2 separate regions of the Homo sapiens genome follow, and region 2 is linked to region 1. A link means that fine-mapping ties the variant in region 1 to the expression of a gene that starts in the linked region. Tissue or cell type: whole blood. Region 1 holds a variant in brackets; the other region holds the start of a gene. All regions are shown on one strand. Distances are between the middles of the regions.

What was found. PIP is the estimated chance that this variant, and not a neighbour inherited with it, causes the effect.
Region 2: it holds the start of SLC2A9, and the variant in region 1 is fine-mapped to the expression of SLC2A9 in whole blood (TOPMed, PIP 0.95).

The regions. Positions count from the first base shown.
Region 1 is chr4:9,941,672-9,946,868 of GRCh38, forward strand. SLC2A9 (solute carrier family 2 member 9) reads right to left here. Exons shown (of 12, transcript NM_020041.3): 6 at 242-374. Among named protein-coding and RNA genes, the nearest start is that of SLC2A9-AS1, 44 kb to the right of the region's middle. RefSeq lists an enhancer at 2,662-3,861. The variant G/A (reference allele first, on the strand shown) is at 2,800.
Region 2 is chr4:10,019,321-10,024,445 of GRCh38, forward strand. SLC2A9 (solute carrier family 2 member 9) reads right to left here and starts at 2,177. Exons shown (of 12, transcript NM_020041.3): 1 at 1,960-2,177. The coding sequence starts at 2,109. RefSeq lists an enhancer at 1,659-2,158.

The sequences.
Region 1 (5,197 bases):
GTTCTGGCTTTTCCAGATTCCCTGGGAGACTCCCTGGGTGACTCTGTGTCCCCTCTCTGTCCCCCAGCAAGGCTGTTGGGAAGATGAAATGAGAAGGTACCCTATGATACCCAGCCCAGTGCCTGCAAAAAGGAACAATGACAACACCCCTTCCTGTGCCCATTGGCCCAGGTCCCAGCATGCCTTGCAGTGATGATCTATGCAGGGGCTGGAGCTGTGCAGGAAAGGGAAGGGCCCTCACCTTTCACAGCTCTTGCCTCGTTGTGCTTCTCCAAGAGCAGGTAGCGTGGGCTGTCCGGGAGAAAGGGAAGGCTCAGCAGCTGGACAACGGCAGGGACCACAATCACTCCAAACAGGTATGGCCAGGTACTCTCCTGTGGGAGAAGGAGATGCTGCTGAGTGCAGTGGCCTTTGGTCATTGTTGAGGGGACTGGGCCACTGGACCAGGTGGTTTCGACCCTGCAGAAGGTCTTCCTGCCCAGCATGATCCCCAGGAACAAAGGCTGAGGGAAGGAACTGAGCCAGGCTGGGCACCAGTCCCACGTATATAGCATTTTCCATGCATGAGTCCAGAGACTCCTCAAGAGTCCCCTGTGAGATAGTGACCTGCAAGGTAGCTCTGAAAAGCAGGCGGCTCTGGTTGGCCAAGGCCACTCAAGGGCTGCTTGACCCCACTCCCTGGGGAACCATGGTGAGCCTGGGGGATCTTAGGGTCTCCTTCTCTTCAACACCAGGGCTGCCTCCCAGGCTGCCCCAAGAATGGAGCCTGCATGTGGAGGTGACATGGGCACCACCGCTAGATATCTAGACGCCCACGACATTCAACCATCTCTGTCTTCTCAGTGAGGACACAAGAAGGGCAGCTGGAGCTCTTGCAGACCCCATGGGAGTGAGGAAGAGGGGGCCAGTGGGGCACAGCTTACCCCTTAGGGAGAGGAGGCCTTTCACTTTCCAGCCAGCTATGAAAGGCAAACAGATCCCTACGACACGCACTATTCAAGAGGCAAGTGATGCACTCCAAGCAGTGACATCCCCTGCAGTGCAGCTTAAATGAAGCCCAGAGCACACGTTACGATGCCCATCAAGGTAGTATTCGTCCTAACCTGCTTTCTTCCTACCCAAGTTTACAAATAGGCTCTCAGTGTGCCACTGAAAGAAGAGAATCCTGCTCACAATGCAGTTCTGATCATGAGAAGGAGGAAAAACCAAGTCCTCAATGCCACATCCTTGACACGTTTATTTCCCAAGAAGGTACAAGGAGATGGCCAAGGGCAAAATAAGACACACTCAGACCTGAAAAGACTTCACATGATAGGCAGAGGTTCTGTTGGCTTCAGGTGGGGCCCATGGGAAGTTACCCTCAGGATCCTGGGGCACCAGAACTGGCAGGGCCTGGGGACAGCCTCCCCACCTCTCCCCCAGCTGCCCGCTGGGAGGCAGGGCTTCCCTCTGCTGCTCTCCCAAGACTCGCTCCCTACTGAGGTCCATGGTAACAGAGACTTTTGCAAGTTCTAGGATCCCATGAAGGGAGAGCAGCAGGGCCCCAGGGCTCAGAGTGAGTGGGGAAGTGGCCTGCCAGGGGCACACAGCCAGCAGCTGGTCCAATCATCATCTCCATCTAAGGGGTGCCTTAGATTTGATTCCCTTTTCTGTATCTAATAACAATTTTTATTCACAAAACTCCTCTGGTTCCGCCAGCCAGCATAGCCCTTCCATCGCCCTTTGAGGAACTGGCAAGGCCAATGTCAGCTTTCCAGTTTCAGGAGGAGCTCTCGCTAGAAGGCTGGGAGGGGTAGGCTAGGGCTGTCGGGGGCCCAGGAGGGCCAGGGACAGGGGAGTGGGGAGTGACTGCGCATGGGTGTGGGGTTTCATCTAGGGTGATGCAAATACCCTGGAATTAGGGAAGGCCGATGGTGGCCCGACTCCGTGAAGATACCAAAACCCACTGAGCTGTATACTTTAAAAGGATGAATTTTATGATATGTGTGTCATAGTTTGATCAAAAAGAAAGACCAGGAAGAAAAAACCCCAACATACATAGAAGTGGAATTTTCGCTAGGCCTGTGTGTGGTGGTGTTGATTTTATTTTCTCTCGGGGTTTGGCTGCCGTCTCAGTAAGGGTAAAAACAGAATCTGAGAAAACACGAGGGAACCAACCCCATGAAGCTCCTACCACGTGCCGGATGTGATGTGAGCCCTTCCCATGGCTGTCTCCTTCCACCGCACAGCCGCCAGCCCCACACACAGCCAGCAATACTGCTGCATGTTAAAGGTGTGGCAGGCGATTCCTGTGCTGAGGCCTCCCAGCCAGGAGCCACACAGGTGGAAATCAAGCCTAATATTTTCCCACAGTATCGTCACAGTGGGAGCACTTCCCAGGGGTGGTGTTTTTGGAGCTGCCACTGGGTGGAAGGGCACCCCCAGCATAGGAACAGCATGTATAACCACACAGAGGCATGATCCACCCAGGCTCATTGGGGAACAACAACTGTAGTGGAAACAGAAGGTCAGGGGATGCCGGAGATGTGGGAGCTGAGGCTGGAGCCTTGAGCAGAGGTCAGGTCATGGGTGGCTTTGCTGCCTTTCCATGGCTCTTGGACTTGGCTTGAGGACAACAGGAGCCTTTGAGGGGTCTATGCACTAGCTGAGATGGACACTCTCTATTTCCTTGAATCTACAATTCAGTGTTTTTGGAATCTTAGTCAGTGGGTATGTTTCACATTGCATGACTTATTCCTGAAAGGCTGTTATCAAGTTTATGGCATAGCCTTTGATCCCTGGTCTCTTAAATACAAGGAC[G/A]TGTGGACTCTTTCTTAAGGGGGGTCGCATGGGTGACCATGGTCTTCTTTCTACCTCTGGAGAAAAGGTGGATTCTTTAAACCTCAGGGTGGGCAGCCCCCGGATTGGGATGCCAACATTTCTGAACTGGGGAAGGACAATGGCAGTGGCCACTCTGCACACATCCCTGGGGTGAACAGCGGAAAAGGTGAGGGTCGGGAGTGTCCAGAGTGGAGCTCAGATAAGAGTTTACTCCAGAGGGACTGAGCTTAGCCAGCAGAAGAGTCTGAACCTGGCTTTTTCCAGCAAGTGTTCAGAGATTTCCTGGAGATATTAGCTGGCTGCAGGGAGAGGTGTTATAGTTAGGAGAGATTATTCCCCTCACCTTCTACCAAGAAAAGTGTGACTGGGTGTGTGGGTAGGGTGTGTGTTGAATGAAGTGTTTCCACCCATATTATACATGTGGCCCACCCAAATAATAAAAATAGCTAGGATGACCTGCGCACACGTCATCTCAATGAGTAAGTGCCTAGCCTGCTCACTCATTCCTGCCGTGGGGCCACAATAAAGGCTCTGCTATGCCCTGTGCTTTATGGAAGAATTTCTGACAATGAACATGCACGTCTTCTCTCCCAATGACAGTGGTAAAGATGTAATCGCCATCAGCAACCCTTACTGAGCAGGGGCTTGCAGCCAGGATCAGGGCAACCTAGTGAGTGGCTATGGGCACAGCTCTCTTGCAGGCTGTCTGGATTTGAATTCTGCCTCTACCCCCACTCACTGTGCTGTGGGCAAGTTATCGAAATGCCTATGCCTCAGTGTTCTCATCTGTAAAATGGGGACAGTGACAACACGTATTCCTAGGGAGGATTTCTGTTGGGAGGATTTAGTCCATGAATGGATGTCGGGAGTGCTGAGCACAGGCCTGCACACACTGTAGGTGTTCAACAGGAAAGAGTGGCTTTTATTACTAAGCACATTGGATAGTTCATCTCTTCTCATCCTCACAATAGCTCGCAGACAGAGAGCCTGTGATTATCTCCACTATACAGAAATATTAACTGCAGCACAGAGGGGTTCAATAGCTCATTGAGGCCACAACTCGGTCATAGAGGCATGACTGGCCGCCAAATCTGGGATCCCAGAGTCTGAATTCAAATCCAGGAGGCCTGATAAGACATACCTAGTGACCAGGGAGGAGCCATCAGACCACCAGACTCAGGGGAAGGGCCAGGAGAGCTTGGTCTGAACTTCTACCATCTGACCCAGGCCTAAGACCCTCAGTGGCCCTTGATGGAGCTCCTGGGCACTTGGTCCCAACACAGAGCTGAGGCCTCAGTGTTTTACATTAGATGGGCATGGCCTGAAGGCAGAGACCTGCTAGCACACAGTAGTGGTTCAATACATGTCTATTGAAGGAGCAAATCAGCGTGGGAAAGGGCTTTCCTACACACTGGTCCCTTTCACAAACAGCGCTTGCCATTTTCAGACAGTGGCCTCTGAGTGTCTTTTTCAGGTGCTGTTCAAAAAGGAAGGCATGTTTTAAAAAACCGCATATTACTCGCCTGACACAAGACCATGAGGCGCCACCAAACGACAACCTCAAAGATGAGTCTTTGTGGTGTCGGTCCAGCCTGCTGGGTTTGGTAAAGCCCTAGAGCGTCCATCTAGGAGAACACAGGCAGAGTCTTTGCACCTGCTATTTCACTCAGGAGGAAAGAAAAGGATAGTCTTGTCAGCCAAGGTGATTTTTAACTCCCAGTCAGGTCAGGCGAATGGGCTTTGCAATTATCTTGTTCTATTATCTTGTTCTTTAATCTGCAGGTTTCCATGTTTTAAATAGACTTCCAGGTCATATTTCCCCCAAGCTATAGACTACTTTAGTCCATAAATAATATCATCCTGGACTATGATGAATCAGCAAAAAATGTTTAAGTAGAGTTGAAATCATTACTCTTACCCCAAGTCAAGTTCTTATAAAGGATGTTCCAATATGCTCATGGCCCCCAGACAAGGGAGCACGGTGAGGGGGTTGATGCTGGCTGGGCCACTTATGCCTCTGACAGCAAAAGGGCTCCAGAAGTGGCCATTGCTCCATGCTGCTGGATTGGAAAGGGGAAGAGCAAGCCCTACCTTACACAGCTATTTGGGGGATTAAATGAAATGCTCTTCTTTATATTTCTTCATATTTAGGCTCTTATTCTAATAATGGCTTACATTGATCAAGTGGGCTCCACGTGCCCAGCTCCCTGCTAAGTGTGTTACAAATGTAACCTTGTGTTACATAAGAACAGTCCAGAATGTCATCTAAATACAACCTTGATCTTTGTCTCCTTATTCCTCTAAAATTTAATCCCTGGGGCTTTATTTCCCTGCCCCATTCTAGGGGCTCATGTCTTTTCTGCTGAAACTGAGCAGA
Region 2 (5,125 bases), 78 kb after region 1:
GTGAGGATTCCTGAAACGCAGTTTTCAGCAGCTGCTCTGGGCAGCTCCACACGATCCTTTCAGCGAAGTTGGCGAGTGTCCGACCCAGACAGAAAAAAGCAAAGCCAGACTCCAAGCGCTATCAGCCAGGCGTGATTCTAAGCACTTTTCTGCGCATTGTCTCTGAGTCCTTAGATCAGTGCTGTTATGTCCTGTATTACAGGTGAGGAAAGAGGGGCAGGGAGCGTGGCTGGTGCTGTCTAGGATGGGGACTGAAGTCCAGGTGGCCTGGCTGCAGTGCCCCTCTAGTCACCACTGCACTGTCCCCTGCTGACCCGTCACCTGAGTGCCGTTGTCCAAGGGCCTGAGACTGCCGACAGCCAGACAGATGTGCACACACGCTTACATGCACATACTGTTCCAGTCTGAGGCGTCAAACTACAGGGGCTGGTCCAAGCCTCAGGACAAGGACCTGCAGACGTAGAGATGCAAGGTTTGGCACAGAGAACAGGGCGCCTGCCTTGGTGTTGTCCTGCCCTGCAGCCCCATCTAAGGACAGCCACCACCAGTACAGGGCCATAGGGCAGAAACACCTGGATCCCTGGCAAAGGCTGACAAGCTGGCATGAGCCAGGGCAGGAGGGATGGCTGTCCTCAGCTGGTCAGGGAATACAGGCCAAGTGGACAGGGGCCAGGTGCTCCGGAAGGCACCTTCTTTGCCATCATTTGACATATTTGTGAGTGTGTGTGTGTGTGTGTGTGTGTGTGTGTGTGTTGTAGGCGCCAGGCCCTGACAAAGCTGTGGGGGTGCAACAGTGAAGAAGACATATGGATCCATGGTTCAGGGACCCATATCAGTCAAATCCCGTCTGGAAGGGAATGCGGGTCTCTTGATGGCCACTTACCTGCTCTGCCAGTCTCGTTTGTCTCCTCTAGTGCCACCAGCCACGAGATAGAGCTTTGGGGCTTTGAGCCAAGTGATATCAGCTTTACCTCCAGGGCCAGTCCCCTCAGCTGTAGGAGTCTGAGCAAGTGACTTGACTTTTCTGGGGCTCAGCTTGCCCACCTGTGAAATGGGATCTTAATAGCAGCACTGGCCACATATGTTGTTGAGGAGCCTGCTGCAGAGGAGGTGCTCCGTAGAGGCTGCTGATCACATGCGGGGGCAAGAGGGAACATTTATAAGCCTTGGGGATGGGTGCTGCCAATTGAAATGTAGTACCAGAATATTTTTCTGCAGTGAGAGGAGCTTGAGCTGAATGGGGATCCCTGATGGAACAGAATCACATTTCAGATGAAACGCCTGTTCTCTATCACTCTTTCTCTTTAAACCTATCCTCTGAGTCTCGGCACAGATACCACTTCTTCTGAGCCCCTGGGCTGTGCTGGGCATCGTTTCTGTGCTCTGTGCCTTCTTTGCTCCCAGCCCCGATGACCTTAGAGGACACAAACTCCTCCCTGGTCTGCACCCCATCAGATTGGGAGCACCTGGTGTGAAGTGCCCCTGCCAGAGGCTGGTGAAGGGCAGGTGGGGGCCATCTTCTCCTGCCTCAGCTGTGCTCCCCGGAGCCCCCTGCCTGTGTGGCCCGCCTGTGCCCTCCACCCGCTCCCCACTCACTGCACGGGCAGAGGGTGCCCACTGACCGACGGTGCTGCTGCCCGTGCCATGCCCTGGGGAGGGTGAGAAGAGGGACACCACCATGCAAGTGCGGGGCAGGGCAGCCTGCCACCATAGCCTCATTCCATGTACACACCCAGTCTACCAGAGACGCTGTTGGCCCAGTCAGCTGGGGCTTGGAGAGAGCATGCCAAAGTCACACAGATGGAGAAGTGCAACTCAAACTGAGGCCTCCCTGCCTCAAAGCCCCAGATCCCCCAGCTACACGCTGCCAGGCTGGGGCTGAGCACTGTCACACGGCTGCCACCCAGGCCTGCCTTCCCCACAGCCCGCCAGCCATGCAGAAAAGCTGTCCGTAGTTACCTTTCTTCTCCTTCCACCTGGCACCCCACTCCTCAGGTGGTCACACTCCAGCAGTGCCCTCCCTGGCCCTGGAGGCCCGGCGTGGCTGGTGTCATCTGTGAGGGGAACTAGGCCCAGTTCCTTGGAATTCCTATTTTGTTTCCTTGCCATGGGTCTCAGTGACCCAGCTGATGGCTCAGTCCAGGGACCCCAGACTCTGCCAAGGCATTTCCGTGAGTGAGGAGGCAGAGTCCACTGGAAGGAGGGCGGGAGTTCCTGACAGGAAGTGTGGCAATTTGATCATGCCTGAACAGGCAACGGGGCAACATTTTTTTCTCTGCTCCTAAGTTATTACAGCAATGAAACAGTCCAAAAAGGGAAATCTGTCCTCTCCAGGATTGCCACCCAGGGGGTGGAATTTTTTTTTTTTTTCTTAGCATCTTTTTATTTTTCTCTGGTAACAAAGCCTGGAGCAGGGTGACTGCCATTAACCTAGGATACCTCCCTAATGCTTGGAACAGAATGGAGAGGTGGCTGACTTTGACTCAGAAGCCTGCATACAGCTCTGCCCCTGACTCTTCCACTTTTTTTTTTTTTTTTTGACCGAATCTTGCTCTGTTGCCCGGGCTGGAGTGCACTGATGCAATCTCTGCTCACTGCAACCTCCGCACCTGGGTTCAAGCAATTCTCCTGCCTCAGCCTCCCAAGTAGCTGGAACTATAGGCGTGTGCCACCACGCCTGGCTGATTTTTGTATTTTTAGTAGAGACTGTGTTTCACCATGTTGGCCAGGCTGGTCTTGACCTCCTTACCTCAGGTGATCTGCCCACCTCAGCCTCCCAAAGTGCTGGAATTAGAGGCGTAAGCCACCATGTCTGGCCAACTCCTCCACTTTTTAACTGTGTGTCCTCAGGCAAGTCACTTTATTCTCTGAGCTGCAACTTCTACCACTGCAAAATGGAATATTGACCCCACTCTGACTGTCCTGCAGACTTATTCTGAAGCTCAAATAGAAAACAGCCAGCCCCAAGTGGCGTGCTGTAAATGAGTGTGGGCTCTCCTGTAGCCTAGAACAAAGGCGAGGGCTGTGGGTTTGGAAGAAAAAGAATTTGCCTCTTAGTCGTTACTCTGTCCTGCTCATTCAGCACTGGCTGAGGGGACATGTCCTGTATTCCAGCCCCAGGCTGGCTCAAGGACAGTACTGAGAAGGCAAGGGCCTCATGCACACCAGGAGGTTGTGGGAATCAGTTCATCACATGGCCATGTTGCCTCAGACGCCAGAGAAGCACCTTCAATTTTGGCTAGAACAGTTTGCTCCCAGAAGCAGAGAGCAGTGCAGAGTCTGGGCCAGAGCCAGGGACAGGCTTGGTGAATGCAGAACGTCCAGGAGGCAAGGTAGGGCTCAGTCCACAAAAGAGAGATCGAAAAGTTAGCAAAGTACGTTTAGTAAAAAGCACACAATAAAATAAAAGGTGTGGAGTACGGCAGACATTCCAGGAACCTGGAATGTGAAACGCACGTGGAAACGTCCGGCCCTGACATGCACGGTGGTGGGAATGTGGCTGCTCAAAGCAAGTGGGGAATCAAGACTTCCAAAGAGGAAAACCACCCTCAGGAGTTAGGTTGGGGATGTATTGAGCACGCCAGTCATTCAGTGCAATCGTCCTTCTGTGTGTTAATCAGTCAGGCATGCCCCGGGAGAAGTGGCTGTTTCTTGAACTGGATTTCAGCTATGCAGCCTGGTTTCCTCATTGAGTGGTGGGCCTAGAGCAGCATTCTGATGTGCAAATCCTTAATTATAACATGACCTAAAAAGGCGGAGGATTCCCCAGGACAGTGTGGAGGAGGCACCACATCAATCTCAGCTGGATCTTGGAGACCCCGCTGGAAGAGGCGGCTTCTGAGCGGACAGAGAAGGATACGGGGTGAGAGGACAAGGAGCCAAGGCCTGCAGGCACAGATGCCTGCAGTGTGTGGGAGGAAGTGAAATTGTCAGTGAAGCATGGTTGGGGCCTGAAGTACAGGAGATGGGCAGAGGAGGGGCAGGGACAGCTGCATCCCTGTGCATGGAGGGCCCCTCTGCCCCTATGCTGTCCTGATAGGGACTGCATTTTCATCATCTCATTTACCCCTCCTCATCCCATTGCTGTGACTCCCCTCTCTATACCCTCCCTGTTTCCTCATCTGTAACAGTGGGGACCTCACCAGATTTTGCTAAAGCTCAAATTGGATCAGGTGTCCCCTCATCCCGTTAAAAATTGCTTCGTAGTCCTCTGTTGGGTTTGAAAACTCAAAAGGAACCAGAAATTAGGCAGTGGACATGAATGTGCAGCTACAGCTGGACAGAAAGTAAAAGAGCGGAGATGGGTCCCTCCCGGATCCAGATGGTAGCTAACCAGGGTTCCTGGTAGCCACAGCACTTGCCTCACCTTCAGCTCCTACTACATGTGCACAGCTCATGTTACATGTGCACAGGGCTTTCCCAAGTGTGTTCACCTTCATGATATCGTTTAGTCCTCAGAGGAACTATCAGACCTACATTTCGGGGCAACTGAAGTTCAGGGGGAGCATGGAGGAGCCTGCCTCCAAAGCGAGGGCTGGTTCCCCATTCCACAGGGCCATCGGCCCTGCACTGCAGGCAACTGCTAAGGAAGCGACTCCTATCACAGATGAAGTCATAAGACAAACATCCCCAGATGTTCTGGGCTGGGGCACGTTCTGCCTGCTCTGACACTCACTGGTTCCTTCATTCAGTCATTACTTGCCTGTCTTTATGAAGCTCCTACTCATTCAGGTTCTCCTGACCTTGCTCAGGCCCTCACTTCTGACTGCCCTGAACTGTGCTCACCCTTCAGCACTTAACTCTCTCGCCACCTCCTCCCAGCAGCCTCCCCAACCTCTCGCTGCCTCTGTGCTCCATGTGTGCCTTCCCCTCTGCACGTGTGCTGCTGCTCACGTGTGCCTTCCCCTCTGCACGGGAGCTCACTGTGGGCAGGGATGGTGTGCGTCTCAATGGGCTGATTGTGTCCCCTCAGATTCACATGTTGAAGTCCTCACCCCAAGTACCTGACAATGTGACTGTATTTGGAGATAGGGTTTTTGAAGAGGTAATTAAGGTTAAATGAAGTCATATGCATGGGGCTGTATTCCAGTATGCCTGGTGTCCTTATAGGAAGAGGAAATGAGGA